Regions from separate parts of the Homo sapiens genome. Here region 1 is linked to region 2. The links come from fine-mapping of genetic effects on gene expression. A gene starts in region 2. The other region holds a variant in brackets. All regions are shown on one strand. Distances are from middle to middle. Region 1 overlaps WIPF3 (WAS/WASL interacting protein family member 3). Region 2 holds the start of WIPF3 (WAS/WASL interacting protein family member 3).

Region 1 (4,389 bases), 75 kb after region 2:
TCTTGGGACCTTAAGCACTAGAAACTTCCAAAGTACAAAATGGTTCTTGAGAAATCTTTTAATTCATCATCCTGTTTAAATTATTCCATTGTAATAGCTTAAAAATGACTTGTAATAGTGTGTAATACTTAGTGATGGCGTGATGGTAGCCCAGACTGCAAAGTGTATATAAACAGAAGGTCCAAATTGTAATAGAACTTCATAGTGACATCACTGTGGATGCATTAGCAATGCATGAGTTGTAATGATTCGGTCATCATATCAGTTAGGTACTGCTGTGTAACGAAACACCCTAAAACTTAAAAGCTTTAAACAATCATTTTTTAGCCTACAATTCTGTGGGTTAGCAGCTTAGAGTAGTCTTGGCTGGGCTCCCTCTTGCATCTATAAAGAACTGCAGGTTGTGTAGGTAGCTTTGCTAATCTTATATTTCTCATATTTTTCCAACCTCTGGAGCCTCAGCTATAACCACTGGCCTGACTCACCTCTATCACGTGGTCTCTCAGTATCCAGCAGGCTGTCTGGGCCTTGTTTTCATGCCAGCAGCAGGGTTCCAAGAGAGAAGACAGAAGTATAAATAAAGTCTCTTGAGGCTTAGTCTTGGAAGTATTACTAGGATGTAACTTGGAAGTCTAAGAAGTATCACTTCCTACCACATTCTCTTAGCCAAAACAAGTCACAAGGATGGGGAAATAGACTTCGCCTCTTGATGAGAGGAACTGTAAAATCATATTTCAAAGATTATGGAATCAAGCATAAGTGGGTAATGAAGGCCATGTCTGTAATCAGTCTACCTCAGTGATTTTTGTTTCAGTGGGCATCAGATGTTTTGAAAATATTGCATTAAAATTGAACAAATACAAATTTACTCTGAGAAAAAAAACCTGTTTTTCCTATTCTTGTTCTCTTTAACCAGCAAGCTGAATAAACTCCAGGAATACCATTAATACAGGAGGAAATACAAAGGCCCAAACCTTCCTCGTACCAGATCTTCCATCATGCGACTTTTCTAACTTTTTCAGTGGCTTCTGTGACTGTTTAATGTTATGGGATGATTATGCTGCCTCACTCACCAATAAAAGTCCAGCAAAGAAAAAGACTCTAGGATATTTTGAGATCCAACTTGAACCTTCTCAGGGGCCATGTTCATTTCCTCATTTTTGCTGAGGGGTTAGCAGGAAAGGTAGAGTACAAGGTCTTCCTCAATAAAGACAGTGGATATTCTTCAGTGTCCTCTTCTTTTTCAAAATTCCCGAGTGCTATCAAACAAATATCCTTTGGAATAGAAGGCTTCCACCAGTTTCTCTTCATAGAAGATGGGAGAAATGGGCCCCAGTCAGGTTTTCATAGGAAGCAGCCAAAAATAGCCAGCAGGAGTCCTACTGGTCTGCTTGTCACCAGTGGGACATAAGTGTCAGATGTTTGAGCCGCTGTAATGGGGAAGACAAGAATTTATCTCTTTAGAGATGGAGGTCCATAAGGAAGTGACTAATGATGCCTGTTCCAGGATGGAAACTCAAGGAGAAAGCCACCAGATAAACACATGGACTGGGTACCATGTCAGGGCAAGGCAGGCCGTGGCTCCCTGCTCCCAGCACTTTCCCAACAGCCCCCTTCTCATCAGAGGAAGGGACTTGAGCCTTTGCTCCCTCTCTGATCTTCTGGCCTACCTTTCTTGGTGGTTCATGCCATCCCCTCCACTCACACTATCCTCCTTGCTGCTCTCACACACCAGCATGTTGCTGCCACTGGGCGCTTGCACCGACTCTCCCTTGGCCTGAAAGGCTCATCCGCAGGTGTCCACGTGGCTCAGTCTCTCCCTTCCTGCAGGTCTCTGCTCAGGTGGCAGCTGATCAAAGTGTCCGTGAGGTCTTCACTTATTATCCCATATAAAGGTTTAGTCCTATCCTTTCATTCCATATCTCCTTTTCCTCAATTTACTTTTCTTGTATTACTCGGCACCACCTGACATATCATGTATTCACTGGTTTATCTGTTTATTGTCTGTCTGATCCATCTGAAGCTAAGCTCCGTGAAGGCAGGGACTATGTTTTGTTCATTGCCATAGAAATGCCTGGC[G/A]CATGGCAGGTGCTCAGTAAATACTTGCTGAATTGCATGTGTGAATGGTAGTGTGGTGGCTGACATTCATTAGGGACCATAGCACAGTGTCATGGGCTCATGGTACTTTTAGGGACCCATGAAAATATTTAAATTTCTTTTAAAATCAGAAGAAAACATATGACCTTTTAGGATCAAAGAATGTATTTGTCTTTGTACCAATGCAGTCATGAATATAAATATTTTTTTAATAGAGAAGAGGCCCACAAAGGCAAAAGTGCCTAGGGACCCTGGAGTCATAATGCAACCTTGGCCTAGAGCTCTAAGGGAGTGAGAATTACAATAAGATATGATGAGTAAACATTATTTCTGGGTTGAATAGAATATGTAATGAGACTTCCAAGGTCTTCTGGAGAACATTCAGATTTGAGGAAGAAGAAATATTTCATCTTTTGCTAAACCTGCATGTTCTAAAAGCTGAATCCTTTCCTATGGGCACAGCATCCCTGATGCCCTCAATCTGGCCTTTCCCGCCACCTCCTGGCCTCCTTTGTGTTTTCTCTGGATTTCTAGGGCTCGGGTTTCCATTGTGAAGGACAGCCTCCTCCCTTACTTCCTTCAACTCCCTCGGAGCTCTCTGTCGGCCCAGGCCTGCCTCCTCCACTTGCCTGCACTTACACCATCAGCCCCTTTCTCCTCTGCAGTCTCACCTTCCTCCCTGAGGGGCATGCCCGCCCTCGCTTCTGCTGCGCATGTTAGGATAAAAATGAGTTTGCCCACATTTCTCATTTGGTTGGTGGCTTCATCAACACAGGATCCCCTACTTTTAACTGACTCACTTTAAGGGTTTTTGAATCTCTGAGACATGGTGTCCTCAGTTACTTAAAAGGTTTGGATAGGCTATTTAAGGGTAGGCTTTGCTCTGTTTTGTAAACTTTCATTATCCCTTTCAATTTCATTCAGCCACTGGGCATGTAGGTAGGCTCTGCCTTGTTTAGGCAGCTGCCTAGGTTCTCCTCGTCATCTTTTTGTATTATATGGAAAAAGGTTTGAGAACTTCTAGGCAGGAATCCCTGAGCTGACACCTGCTAATACCATCCTCACCCTACCTTAAGAACAGCCATTCCATAATGTGGTTGGAATATTATGGTCTAGGTGACTGTCACATTATAGCCAGAGGGGCTCATATTTGGAAAGCCAGATACCAAGGTCTTGCCTACTTAGCTTCACCTGAGTCACCTCTGCTAGGCCGTGCTTTGATTGGCCTGGCTTTTGACATCCAGTACTTTAAGTGTATGGCTTAGCCCCTGATTGGGGTAAACACACAGGAGACTCAAGTACTGCAAATCTCAGAACCCCCAACAGATGCTGGGATTTCTAATCTGAAATGAAAGCTGCAGGTCCCATGCTGCAGCACCCAGGAAGTAGTGGGTGTGAGAAAACATCATTTTTCAAGTGTTGTCCACATGTTGTCATGGTGATTATAAAATATAGGGGAAAACACCCCCCAGAATTCTTATAAAAAGAGCACTAAATCTGGAAGAAATATTTTAATCTGCCTCCTGAGTAGACAGTGATACTCCAAGGACATCTCTAAGCAGTAATTGCAGAACTTCGAGGCAGTAAACAACGAGAGGAACTTTTTCTTATTAGAGAGAGGCAGAGCGAAAAAAGGGTGAGAACTGGCAAAAAGGTGCAAGGCTGTGCGGAGTATAGAGGCCCCTCCTGGGGACGTGCTCCACCTGAGTCTTCCATGAAAACCAAACGCAAATGCTTATCAAGAGCCAATGGTTGTTGTTGAATTTAAAAGAGGAATTGAATTTCAAGCTGGGGCAGATGCAATGAAGGATCTATAGGATGAGAAAGCCAAAACCCTTGGGAATTAGCATAAGTCTTTGGGAAAGGAGGTTTTGAACTTCCAGAGGTCATAGAACTGTGAGGTTCAAGGTCATTGGACCTGGGTTGTCAAGGGCAAATGTCTCCCTCCAGTCTTACCTTATGTATTCAGGGAATCATGAATTTTCTGCTCTCAACACAGAAACAAAGAAAGTCAAATTTCACAAAATGCTGGGAGTGAAGAAAACCTCCCTAGCCAGGAGTGCTGGTTGGTACACCTGAGGGTCCAAATTAGAGCATAAGGGCTGATGGACCTAGCGGGTGTCAGTGAATGAGTTCGTGAGTGTGGCCTTGATTAGGAAGGGCAAAAGACACCCGGGCAGTCCTGGCCCTGGCTGGGATACTAGAGGCCCAAGGCAGATGACAGCACAGGTGGCATGGATAGGAGGGCTGGAGGCCTGACCTGGGCTTGTCATTAATGCTGGCAAGGACTTT
Region 2 (4,389 bases):
GCTTGGGCTGCTCAGGAGATCTGATGGGAACTCTCTAGGCCCATGGCAATGTCTTCTCTAATAGTTTGACTTTTCTTCCTTTTTGAATTAGAATACTAGTGGTTATGTATTTAGTGAGCTTTAGCACTGGAGGTCCAGAGAAGGAGAGTGGCTGGGTCATGTTTTGGGGTTTTGGGTTTTGTTTTTGTTTTAGTAACAATCACCCATGTAAGAGGGCTTATGAATTTTATGTTGGAGAACTGTTCTTCAGGTTCCATACCTGTGGTCATCTATTATGATTCTAAAGGAGGAAAGGGCAAGAGGAACTCAGGACAAACAGGTGGAAAGCAAGTGCCTCATCAGCTTCCACTCACTACACATAGACCTTTCGTCACCTAAATCAAAAGAGAAAACCATGTTCTTGACGACACTGGAGTGAAAGACATCAAAAGTGTATTATTAATCCTTGCTTTCGACACATTGCCCAGCTACAAACATGAGTAATTAAGAGATCAGCTAAGGGCTGCTTGGGGAACATACTTTGACAGCAGCCACTACAGAACTTGAACCTGAATACAGGCTGCAATCCACGTGTGAGATCTTCCCTGCTGGCATTGGCTGCTCCCTCACCTGGGTCCCCAACATTTCACACAAGCCTCAGCACAGCGCTGAGCGCCAGGTTTCTCCTCTATTCCAGACCAGCAGCAACTTTAGAGTTAGACACCTTGCCCTGAGGCCCTGCAGAGTGTCTGGCTCATGGCAGATACTCAAACACCGAGGCTGAGTGAACAGTCCACGAGTACCCGCTTAGCTCCTCCACTAGCAGGAATGCCCAGGACATGGGCAATACAGAATCCTCACCCAATGATCTCAGCACCTACAGCAATGCATTCAGCCTCGGACACAAACTTTCTGCATCCTCCAAGGGCCTGAACAAGAAATGTGACAGAAGCAAGGTTTTCCGTTCTTCAAGCTTATTTCAGGTTTGTTTTTGTTTGTTTCTTTGTTTGGTTTGGTTTGGTTTTTTGAGACAGGGTCTCACTCTATCGCCCAGGCTGGAGTGCAGTGGTTCATTGCAACTTTTGCCTCCTGGGTTCAAGAGATCCTTCCACCTCAGCCTCCCGAGTAGCTAGGACTAGAGAGCGCCACCACACCCGGCTAACTTTTGTATTTTTTGGTAGAGACAGGGCTTCACCATGTTGGCCAGGCTAGTAACTCCTGACCTCAAGTGATCCGTCCACCTCGGCCTCCCAAAGTCCTTGGATTCCAGGCTTGAGCCACCGCGCCCGGCCCTATTTCAGTTTTCAGTCTGCTTTCTCCTCCCTTCGACTCTACCTGGGACATCAATCTACCTCCCCAGGCTACCCGGATAATTCTCTCATCACCTGGCTAATTCACACTCAGTCTTCAGTTTTTCTCGTCGACGTCAGCTCCTCAAGAAGCCCTCCCTGACCTACTCCCCACCCCAAGTTTAGATCAGGTGCTCCCTCTGGGAGCCGGCTCAGGAGGCCTCTGCCTCCTCTTGGTTGTGCTGTAATCGCCCATTGGTCGCTTTCCTTTTCTAGACTGTGAACTCCACGAGGGCAAGAGGTAATCTTGTTCTCTCGTCCCCATCGCTTATGACACCGCCTGGAGCTTAGTAAGGGCTCAACATTTTGGAATAAATTCAAGGAGTGGCGTGTCCCCAGAGTAGCTGTGCTGGGCCGTGTGCCGCCCGCGCAACAGCTCCTATTTGGGGAATTCCAGCCTTAGGCCTCAGTCTCTCCGCAGCTGAGACTTGGGACTCTGTACCCGGGAGGCGCGCCCGCCGACTTGGGACCCGCCTCCAGGGTCCCAGAGCGACCCCGCCCGCCGGGGCCGTGTCCCTGCCGCGGGGCGGCGGCGGCTCCCAGGCAGGAGCCTGCGAGCAGGTGGGGGCGGCGGCCCCGCCTCCGCGTCCCGGCAGCACCAGAGCCGGTGGCCGGGGAGCGAGCCGGGCGCACCGAGCGCAGCTCGGCGGTAGCGGCGCCGCTTGGAGCACGGGCGCTGCGGGACGGAGCCCGGAGCCGGAGGCGGCGGCGGCGGAGACGTCGGCCGGAGCTCGAGTCCAGTCCAGCCCCCGGCTCCGCCACCTGCAGGTAGCGGCTTCCCGCGCGGGTGCGGGTCGGTGCCCGAGGGTGGAAGGAACGGGCGGTGTGGCGGCCGCCGCCCTGGTCGGTCCCGGAGCAGAGTGGCCCGGCCCGGGACAGAGATCCTGAGGGCGTGGGAGGGCCGGGGAACCCCCGCCGGGCTGCAGCCCCGGGCCCAGGAGGTTGTCGACGTGCCGCGCGGCGCTCACGCCCCCCACCCGCACCCTGCCACGCCGCCCCGGCCGGGCCGGGCCGGGCCGGGCGGAAACAAACCGCGGGGTGGGGAGCGAGGTCACCACGGGGTTGCTTGGTGACTTCTCCGGACTGGACTCCCCGGTGAGCAGCCCCTGGCACCGAGGCCGCCTCGGCCTGGTCCTTCGCGACGCTCTCTCTTCTCCGCTTCGCCCCCGGAACAAAAGGCTGGGGTCTCGCTGGGGAGGGGGCTGTCGCGGGAAGGGCTGGGGCGGAGTAAAAGAGAGCTAGGAAATTGCAGAGCCGGAGGTGGCTTGGGGAATACAGAAGGAGCCCCCTAGTGAGGAAGCCAACTCCAGAGATGTGAAGTGACTTGTCCAAGGTCACACAGCTCATGGGGACAGAGCGCAGGTCTCTGGACACCCCTCCCGTGCTCATCTCCAAGCCCCTGGGGTCAGTAGTCAGACTGTGCTCCAGCAATGTACATTTGGCCACAAATGGGTTTAGGGTCCTTTGGAGGATTAGGTGGTGGGTAGGTAGGTGGCAGAGCAGATTTCCCCCAGCCCCTGACACGCACTCTCTGAAGGTGGCGGGGAGGGCGGGCACCCGGCCGCCCTGGACCTGGAGGAGCGCCGCCCGGGCCCCGTGGGCAGGCAGGCACCGGCTCTCAGGAACAGCGCCTTTGGAGGGTGGCGTGCCAGCCGCGTGGGTGTGCCCGTGGCGGGCGCCGGGGCGGCGTGGGGACCGTGTGTGCGCCTCCCTCTGGAAAGAAGTTTCTGCAGGGAAAGGCCAGGAGAGCGGTTCCATGCGCCCTGGGACAGTGTGGCCAATCCCTGACACTCAGGGCGCTTTGTAACTGGCTGTATTGGGGAGGAAAGTTACTCTGTAGCAGGAAGTTAGGCTGTCTCTTCGCCTCTGTGCCTGGGGTCCTTGGCTGTAAATGAGGGCCTTGTTTGGCATGACCAGTGTGATTTAGAAGGTTTGTGCCCCTCCGCCTCCTCCTTTCCAGAATCTTTTCTCACTTCACAGGGAGGACTGGGAGTGCACTTCTTGTGCCCAGCATTAATAGTTATCACTGGGACTCCTGCCTCCCTTCAATTTTTTTTAACTTTATCATTACGAAAGAGGTCAGAGGAGAGGTTGTTTTTGGGCCTTGCAAGGAGATAAACTCCAGGTCAATACCTGGACAGGACATGAGGGAGGCTTCTGGGATGCTAGAAATGCTTCTCACCTTGACCTAAGAATTACTGAAGTTATACCCTTGAGACTTGTGCACTTAACGTAAATTCTACCTCAGTGAAAAAGTAAATAAAAATGTGATGCTAAAGTCCACTCATTGTGGTAACACACAGATTGCTGCAGTTTTCCAGCTAATGCATTTCAAAGATACATTTAAAAACCACAAAAACCAAATCAGAAAAGAAGTGGCGAGGAGGGGCAAAAGAAAGTTAAGAAGTAACTGGAAATGAAACATACACTGCAGATGCCTTTATGTGCATCACCTCCTGTGATTCGCAGCAATTCTTTAACAGAGATATTGTTATTGTGCCTTTTTTACAGATGAGAAAATAAAAGGTCACAGAGGTTAAATTACTTACTCAGGGTAACAGCCTGGGCACACAGACTTCAAATTCTAGACAGGCAACCTTCAACAGGCAATTTGTGGCCACCTGAATCGGGGCAGAGCGGTCAGGGTGACAGACACTTGTAGGCTGGCTTCCTGCCATTGCCCCCTTTTTGTTCCTTTAGGAGTCTCTGTTTTCACGTAATTGTGAGTGTGACATTGTGTCACAGATTGCAGTTACCCAGCAGCAGAAGGAATGGAGGAAGTGTGTGTGTGTGTGTGTGTGTGTGTGTGTGTGTCTAAGAACATACAGTTATAAGAACAGGGGAAAGCCAGCTGGTCTAGCCTGGCAACGCTCTTTTTAGGAGACTTATTGTTCAGAAACCATATAGTACAGGTTGCGAGTTTGCAGTCACTCCAACACATACACAAAGAATAAAGAATATAACCTAGGAAAGATCCGAGAAAACAAAATGTGATTAACAGTAGAGGGAAACATAGAATTTTCACCAGGATGGCAGTCAACTTTTTTACATTCTAGAATTT

What was found. PIP is the estimated chance that this variant, and not a neighbour inherited with it, causes the effect.
Region 1: its variant is the best candidate, but not a certain one, in a credible set for the expression of WIPF3 in pancreas (GTEx, PIP 0.53).

What each region holds. Positions count from the first base shown.
Region 1 is chr7:29,879,272-29,883,660 of GRCh38, forward strand. The region is part of intron 4 of WIPF3 (WAS/WASL interacting protein family member 3); the gene reads left to right. Among named protein-coding and RNA genes, the nearest start is that of WIPF3, 75 kb to the left of the region's middle. RefSeq lists an enhancer at 3,961-4,389. The variant G/A (reference allele first, on the strand shown) is at 2,080.
Region 2 is chr7:29,804,583-29,808,971 of GRCh38, forward strand. WIPF3 (WAS/WASL interacting protein family member 3) reads left to right here and starts at 1,926. Exons shown (of 9, transcript NM_001080529.3): 1 at 1,926-2,096. RefSeq lists an enhancer at 1,662-2,571.